Linked DNA regions of Homo sapiens. The protein of the gene in region 1 purifies or fractionates together with the protein of each later gene. This does not show direct contact. Each region holds a gene or a part of one and is shown on either strand. Other genes may lie near its edges. The genes, in order: CTNND2 and CDH8.

Evidence for each region.
Region 2: the proteins of CTNND2 (region 1) and CDH8 purify together in Homo sapiens (co-immunoprecipitation; one large-scale study listed by IntAct). This does not show direct contact.

What each region holds. Positions count from the first base shown.
Region 1 is NC_000005.10:11,897,654-11,901,487, reverse strand, and holds part of CTNND2 (catenin delta-2), read left to right. Parts: intron 1-3,834. UniProt on the Homo sapiens protein: Has a critical role in neuronal development, particularly in the formation and/or maintenance of dendritic spines and synapses. Involved in the regulation of Wnt signaling.
Region 2 is NC_000016.10:61,900,371-61,904,204, reverse strand, and holds part of CDH8 (cadherin-8 isoform 1 preproprotein), read left to right. Parts: intron 1-2,731; coding exon 2,732-3,026; intron 3,027-3,834. UniProt on the Homo sapiens protein: Cadherins are calcium-dependent cell adhesion proteins. They preferentially interact with themselves in a homophilic manner in connecting cells; cadherins may thus contribute to the sorting of heterogeneous cell types.

The DNA.
Region 1 (3,834 bases):
TTCTTTCTCCCAGTGAAATTGTTCATCAGAGACAAAAATGAAATTCAAATACTAGTTTGCAAATGCAATTTATAGTTTTGTTAAATAATTTCTAAGGATAATATTGCTTTCATAATAGTTTCTAAAATTAAAAATGAAGTTATAATCTCAAATATAATATTACTTTGGCATTTAGTTGAATATGCAGTGTATTTGCAGAAAATGTTACAGAACTTGCTCTTTTCTGTTTTGCCTTATCAGACTTCTTTCTTGTGTGGTATGAATTTGTGTGGACTTGTCGAAGGGGTTTTCAGAGTAATTTCATCAGGTTGTCTTTAAGAAAACATTAACATTACATTTGAAATAATTTATTGTAATTTGTCCATAGGGTCAGTACACTATGTATGGACCAGTGTATACAGCTGTAACAAGCCAATTGAATTAAAATAGAAACTGTTACATTTTGAACTTCCAATGTTTTCTTCTTTATGATTAGCCACAGAAAATGGGAACACCCATTTTTGTTTTTTCTCTGTGCGAACATTATTTTCACTTCTTAGAGGGAAATCCTTGATGCTAGTCTCACTTTTCCTAACAGAGTTTTTATTTTTAAAAGACTTAACATAGTTGGGAGTACTTAAACTTGGATGTCATAATTCAGACAATGAACAAAAACTAAGCATGGACTGCTAGTCATTTTCAAGTCCAGTACTTCAGCTGAAGGTGTGGTTCTTTGCTGGCTGATTTGCAAGTTGGAAATACACTGCCAAGCCAAATTCATTGTTGGCTTCCATGATGGTTTTCCTCATTCATCTTCTGAAGGTGTTCTCCTGTCCACAGTACTTTGATAGCCTTCTGGTGTGTGAAAAGTTAATTTGAGTAGGAACAGTTCATGATACTTGTTGCTAGCTTCAAGTTATCTGATTATATGCCAAAGCAACAGCTTTTTATATTAATATAAAATATTAAACATGTCATCAATAAATAGTTTCTATCACATTGTCTGCCAATCCAGCCTACTGATTAACAAACTGCCTGGTTGGGTTTAATAAACTCAGTTATAGTCACAAACAGTACCTCCAACACAGGGAACTCACAGAAATATTTTATCATACTGTGCTTTTTAGTCCATTAAATATTAAGACTCATAACAAAAATCTGCAGTTATGACACCTCCAGTTGTTTATCTTTTGATCACATAGCAGTTAAGTGCAATTCCAAGCTCTGAATCATGGTTAATTGATTTGTAGGAAGTGTCTTAGCTATGTCAGGATATTGAAGTACCTGTATCAATTAGTTTTTGACAAATTGGAAATAATGACTAAATAAGTGAAACAATGCTTCCTAGAACCTTTCTATCTTAGATAAATATTCACCTGTCTCTCTTGGCACATTACGTGCAAAATGAATTACATATATTGAAACATTTTATTGGGTTCTTATATATTATATATTACAATATTTTGTAATAAAGTTACACATACACACACACACAAACACGTTATATGTCAGAGCCCAACTATTTCTCTAGAAATATGTTTGTGATCTGAAATGACAATTATTGGAAAAATAAGTTTCCCTAGTGTAATGCTGTTTTGCATTCTGCTTCTGGTGGGTACAGAGATGTGGAGAGAGCACTGGCTTTTGGTGGATTCCAGCCCTGTCTCTTCTTAGCTGTGTATCCCTCACCATTTATGTGATCCTCAGTTGTTAACTCAGTTTCTTCAGCTGTAAAATGGGTAGAATAAGACACAATATCTTAAAAGATTTCTTTGAGGATAAAGTGAGTAAGAGCATGGATAAGTGGCTTGTAAATTACAAAATTTATGTGAACACAAGAAATCAATATATACATATTAAGACAGGTACTAATGTTTTATACATATCTAATTAAATAGGTTATCTAGGTTACCATCCTCTCTAACAAAGGATATTAAATGGCTGTAATTTCCCTACCCCAACCCCTATTGTAATATTGCTTCATTATGCAGATTTGCTTATAAAATATGCTAAACTTTCTATTCTGAAACATACCAGCCCTTTATATATTAAAGTATATAGCAGTTAAGCTAAAGGAGAAGTAAATTATATCTCCCAACACCATTATTATAAAAGATTCTAACCCAGTAGAAATTACAAAACTTTGATATTCTTTATTAGTGTTATATTAGTCACCTGATTAAGATCAAATTTTCTACAAAGATTAATGTTGTACAAAGACTATCATAGACAGTTTAATAAGCATCACTCTCTGTGAGGTCAGATATTACACATCCGCTCTGTTTAGAACCACCGAGCATGAATCTCATCATCATGTCATTATGATAGAGAAAAAAGAAACCTTAAACAGCTAAATGTATTACATAAAGGGAAGACCCCCTCCCCAATTAAAATCAAGTCCTTGAAGAGAACTAAAAAGTGTGTGAATTGGTACCTCTTTGAAAATAGATGGTCATTTTTGCTTTGTTTCACTCTTAAGAGCTTCAGTGAAGACAAAAAAGTGCCCAGCTCTTCCAGGTTGGAAGATGTCCAGCTCCTTGGGATGATCAAACCCAGAGGGGCTTCATTTAGAACTGTGATCTTCAGCAACATAATTTTTAGGATAATTACGATTCGATGTATCTTGGAATTTGTTTCAGAATGTGAGCTGTATAATGGGGGACAAATTTATCTTCAGTCAGAAAAACATTTTTACAATAAATGTGGTTATTTGTATTCAAATTTATGTGTTGTTGTGGGAACTGCCAATTATAAGTTACCAGAGCAAAATACATGTTATGATAAAAGGCCTTACTGGGTTTTTTTGTTTTTTTGGATCAAAGTAAGCAGGTGAGCCAATTATATTTGGTTAAATAAATATATGTAACATTTCTACAAGTTTTGAATGATACAGAAATGTTACTAAATAGGATGTTTACTTTATAACACTAGATGATGGGGGAACAATTAATTGGATCATTGATATTAGAAAATACACTTCTCTTGCCTAGGTAAAGGCCAGAGAAGTGTATTAGTAACATTTTTGGTTTAACAGATGTGATTATCACAACTGTCATTAGAAATTTTAAGAAAACTGCATTTTGTGCATGTTTTATGCAGTTCTTTCTTTTGGTTTAGAAACCTCCTTATAATGTACAAATGCTTTATTGTATTATCTCTTTGCATTTAAATATGCAATTACATAAACCACAGAAAGGTATATAGTTACTTTAAGAATTACAAAATGTGCAGGAATGTGGGTTGTTGGTGTCTTTAAGGAATCAAATAAATATCAAGCTCTCCTCCTCCCCACTCCCCATCTCAGCATGTTGGGATATTGGAAGGGAAAAAGATAAATAATTGGCTGCCATGGGCAAAAATATCAGTTTTGATTAGACATAGCTTGGTGTGGCAGTTGAATTACATCCCAGGTCCTCTGCCTTCTTTCCCTCCTCCCTCCCCACAGGGACAGAGCTTTTTCTGAGCTGGCAGAGCCAAGCCTTGCTCTCTGCAGGGAGGATGATCTCCAGAGGAAGAGAGAAGCAGCAAGGCAAGCTGCTTCTTTATTCTTCAGAGGCAGAGAAAGTGAAAAGCTGGAGAGAGGCCAGCAGTGTTACATTAATTAAGTTCCCTTTGCCTGAAAGGAAATATCAGAATAGAGAAGAAGTGTTCCCCATTGGCATGGTTTATGAAGAATTCTAGTTGATAGAATTCTGGATATAGTAGCTTTCACAGTACTTTGCTTGGTAGTTGAGCTCTTTAAATATTTCATGGTATTTTGACACTACATCAAGAGTTATCAAGGTAGCGTCTAATGCCCTGGTTGATTTGTAGCAACTATGGTCCATGAAATTCAGCAGATTTATGTATAGCCAA
Region 2 (3,834 bases), on another chromosome or scaffold:
TGCTGGTTTTGCACACCTACAGTCTTTTCTTATATTATCAAGTTGGTTACCTGAACAAGTCATGTGCAAGAGTATGTACATGTCTGTGTGTGTCAGTGTGTGTGATACAAATAATAGGATGAAATAAATGAACATACATATATTGTGTTCTGAGATTATCATTGGCCCCAGGATCTGGATTTTACTTGGATAAGCTAAAAGTGAAATTTCTGAAAGAAAGAGGACGTATATACCTCATTTTTTTTTTTTTAAAAAGTGCTGTATATTTAAAAGCTGTTTTTGAATGGAGTCTTGAGAATTTACTTTCACTTACATTGGAACTGGGATTATCACAATGTTTTCAGATAGTTGCATATGACTGAATGTGATATGAAGTAAAAATGGTCACTTAATAGTGCCTCTTCTCTGTTTTAATAATTTTCGGATAGCTGGATGGTTTCAGTTTCTAAAATCAGTTCTGCAGATAGATGCTTTATCCCCGTCTTCTAGGCAAAGTAACTGAAACACAAATAAATGAGTGAATTTCTTCAGTTCATGTAGTTAGAGAAACCAGAATCTTAGCTTTGTGTTTTGTTCTTTCAAAAACCTATGCTTCGCCGGGCGAGGTGGCTCACGCCTGTAATCCCAGCACTTTGGGAGGCCGAGGTGGGTGGATCACAAGGTCAGGAGATCAAGACCACAGTGAAACCCTGTCTCTACTAAAAATACAAAAAATTAGCCGGGCGCCGTGGCGGGCGCCTGTAATCCCAGCTACTCGGGCGGCTGAGGCAGGAGAATGGCGTCAACCCGGCAGGCGGAGCTTGCAATGAGCTGAGATCGCGTCACTGCACTCCAGCCTGGGCGACAGAGCGAGACTCCGTCTCAAAAAACAAAACAAAACAAACAAACAAAAACCTATGCTTCTTTTTTATCATTAGTTACTTCTCTTAGTTAATTTTAACAGAAGGGAGCATTGAAACATAAAATTGTAATATCATTTAATAATCAGAGGCTATTGATAATTAGAAGAAAATATGGCACAAATAAGTTTTAACATAAATAATAATGACACCAAATGTAATAGTTTATTTGTTAATTAACAAAGTTTTGTGGACAAAAATGATACATACTGATCCCTTCTGTGTCTCAAGAACTCCTTGTATGTGAATGGAAACTTCCATGAATTATATATTATTCAAATTTTTTTAATAAAAATGCTAATGAAAATGTTAACATGTGCATAAATTAAAATGATCCTAAATTAGGATTAATATCACATTAATGAATTATAATCCCACATTCATTAAGATAAAGTGGCATTTCAATATTTGTTCATGTTAATACATTTTATACAATAAATGAAAGGGATACATTTTGAGAATCAATAAATATTTGATGTAATCTTATGCTTTAACTTTAAAAAATATTCAAAAGTAAAGTAGGAGATCTAGATGCATTTGGAATCTTTGTTGCTATTTTATGTCTTTTTTATAAGCCTTTCTTTTCACTTATTGAAGGGCTTAATACAATTTAAATTGTTGAAGAACGTGAAAGAGGCTGTTCTGAATAAAAGGGATCCCAAGAGAACACAGCATCTTTTGAATTTCTAGGAGTTTCTTTCCACAAGGCGGTTTTTTTTTTTTTTTTTTGGAACAAATATTTGAAATCTCAACTGGAACTATATTGGCAGTTAAGTAACTGAGTTAAACTGAAAATATGTACATTGAAGTAGTACATCGCAATGGGCTTTTCTTTTAAAAATTCAAACCCCCAAATACATATATTATTGTTTTATTTTATTTTAGTTTTTTAAAACAGGAGAGACACCGTGTATAATATTAGAATACTCCTGTCTCCAGCCTGAGAGAAAATTGTCAGAACCTTAAAACCAGGGATTCTGTTTTCCCTGGTACCTACCAAAATGTTTTAGGCAGACTATTTGCCTGACACACAAATTCAGTAAATATTCATTGCTATGACCAAAAATGGATTTGGGTTCATGGTGAAAAGTTGTCATTTTCTGAAGGGGTTCCATTTCTGGAAAATGTACTCCTAAATTCTGGCCTCAGTGTTCTTCTCTATAAAATGGGAATGATTTTCCTGGACTAGACGAATTGTCAGAACTAAAGGAAAAAAGACTTTCAAAAACATAATATCTTAATATCAGTCAATATATTAGAATTACTTTTGTTTGTATAAACATCACAGGCAGATCTGAGTTGAATTCTGGATCTACCATACTTGAGTCTGTCAAATATAAACCTTGGAGAGGTAAATATGTGCCTCGTTCAGCATCAGTTTTCTTATGTGTCATATGAAATATTCTTAACCCAGTTTTTTAAATAAAAAGGATATGATTATATGAGAAGTGATTCACCTAGTCCTGGGCATACAGATAGTGACCCATAAAAGGTGACTAATCATAATAATTTAAGCAAATGTAATAAATGGAAAATAACACATATATTTTTGTATTTTTCTCCTTGACCTTTTTATCATTCTAAAAGCATGTTGTTTTATACTAAACAGGCCAGAGTACTTTTTAAGGACTGTTCTAACTTATTTAGATGAATTTCATTATATTTTATTCTTAATTGATATCCGCACAGCTGCATACACTTTGTACAGCTACTATTAGCAGAAATTGATGATGTTATGTAAAAAGAACCAACTTAATATTCAAAAAGGAGGTAGTTAAAAAAATAACTTTTCAGATTGCTCCATCACTAACTAATGCCATTTTTCATTTCAGCTACACACAGACCTGGATCCTGGGAGCAAAAAAATCAAGTATATCCTATCAGGTGATGGAGCTGGGACCATATTTCAAATAAATGATGTAACTGGAGATATCCATGCTATAAAAAGACTTGACCGGGAGGAAAAGGCTGAGTATACCCTAACAGCTCAAGCAGTGGACTGGGAGACAAGCAAACCTCTGGAGCCTCCTTCTGAATTTATTATTAAAGTTCAAGACATCAATGACAATGCACCAGAGTTTCTTAATGGACCCTATCATGCTACTGTGCCAGAAATGTCCATTTTGGGTATGTATGCTTCCAATTTCACAGATCTATTAAAAGTCATCTTTAGAATAGCTCCTGGCATCAAGGATGGTGTATTGCTGAATGAAAGACATTTATTACCACCTTATCTCTAATTTGCATTTCCAAATCCCCCTTTTTGGCCTAAGTTCCACAGCTCAGTAGCTTTAGTCCCTTAGTAACAGGAACTGATGGAAGAGCAATTTTATTAAAATATCTTTCCTTACATGACAATACTTCAATAAGCTGAATTTGTATTCCTCTCATAGACTTGTAGTTTGAGTATTGTTACTGAGGCAGATTTATCAAGATTTGTTCTAACATGCCAAGCTAATCCTGTTGATATTTGCTTGATGTTTAATTATTTGTTTGTGTATATTCACATGCAGATGCAGCACACAGAGAAACAGAAAGTCATCTAGGTCTGTAGTCAGCCAGATATTAGGTTGCTCTAGTGGTTCATGTCTAGGGTGGATTAGGCAATCGACATTACCAAGGGCCTCTGTATTTGTGTCCATCTTAACAACATTTTTTAGGAGTGACTGCTAGTACCATTGACCCACTCTCAATTTTTCTGAGTCATTGAAGACTCCATCACATATTACAGAGCAGTCTGTATTTCAAACATGATTTTATTCTTGTTTCTCCCTCTTTGGAATCTGCTTATCTATCCCTAAACCCCTGCCATGATGATAAGAAACCCCTCAACCCAGACATTCTATAATAAAAGGAAGGATTTTAGAGCTCTTCCTTGTATGATAAAAGTAGTAGGCAGAATCTAAAGTTCAAAGTATAAGATTACAAAAGCCAT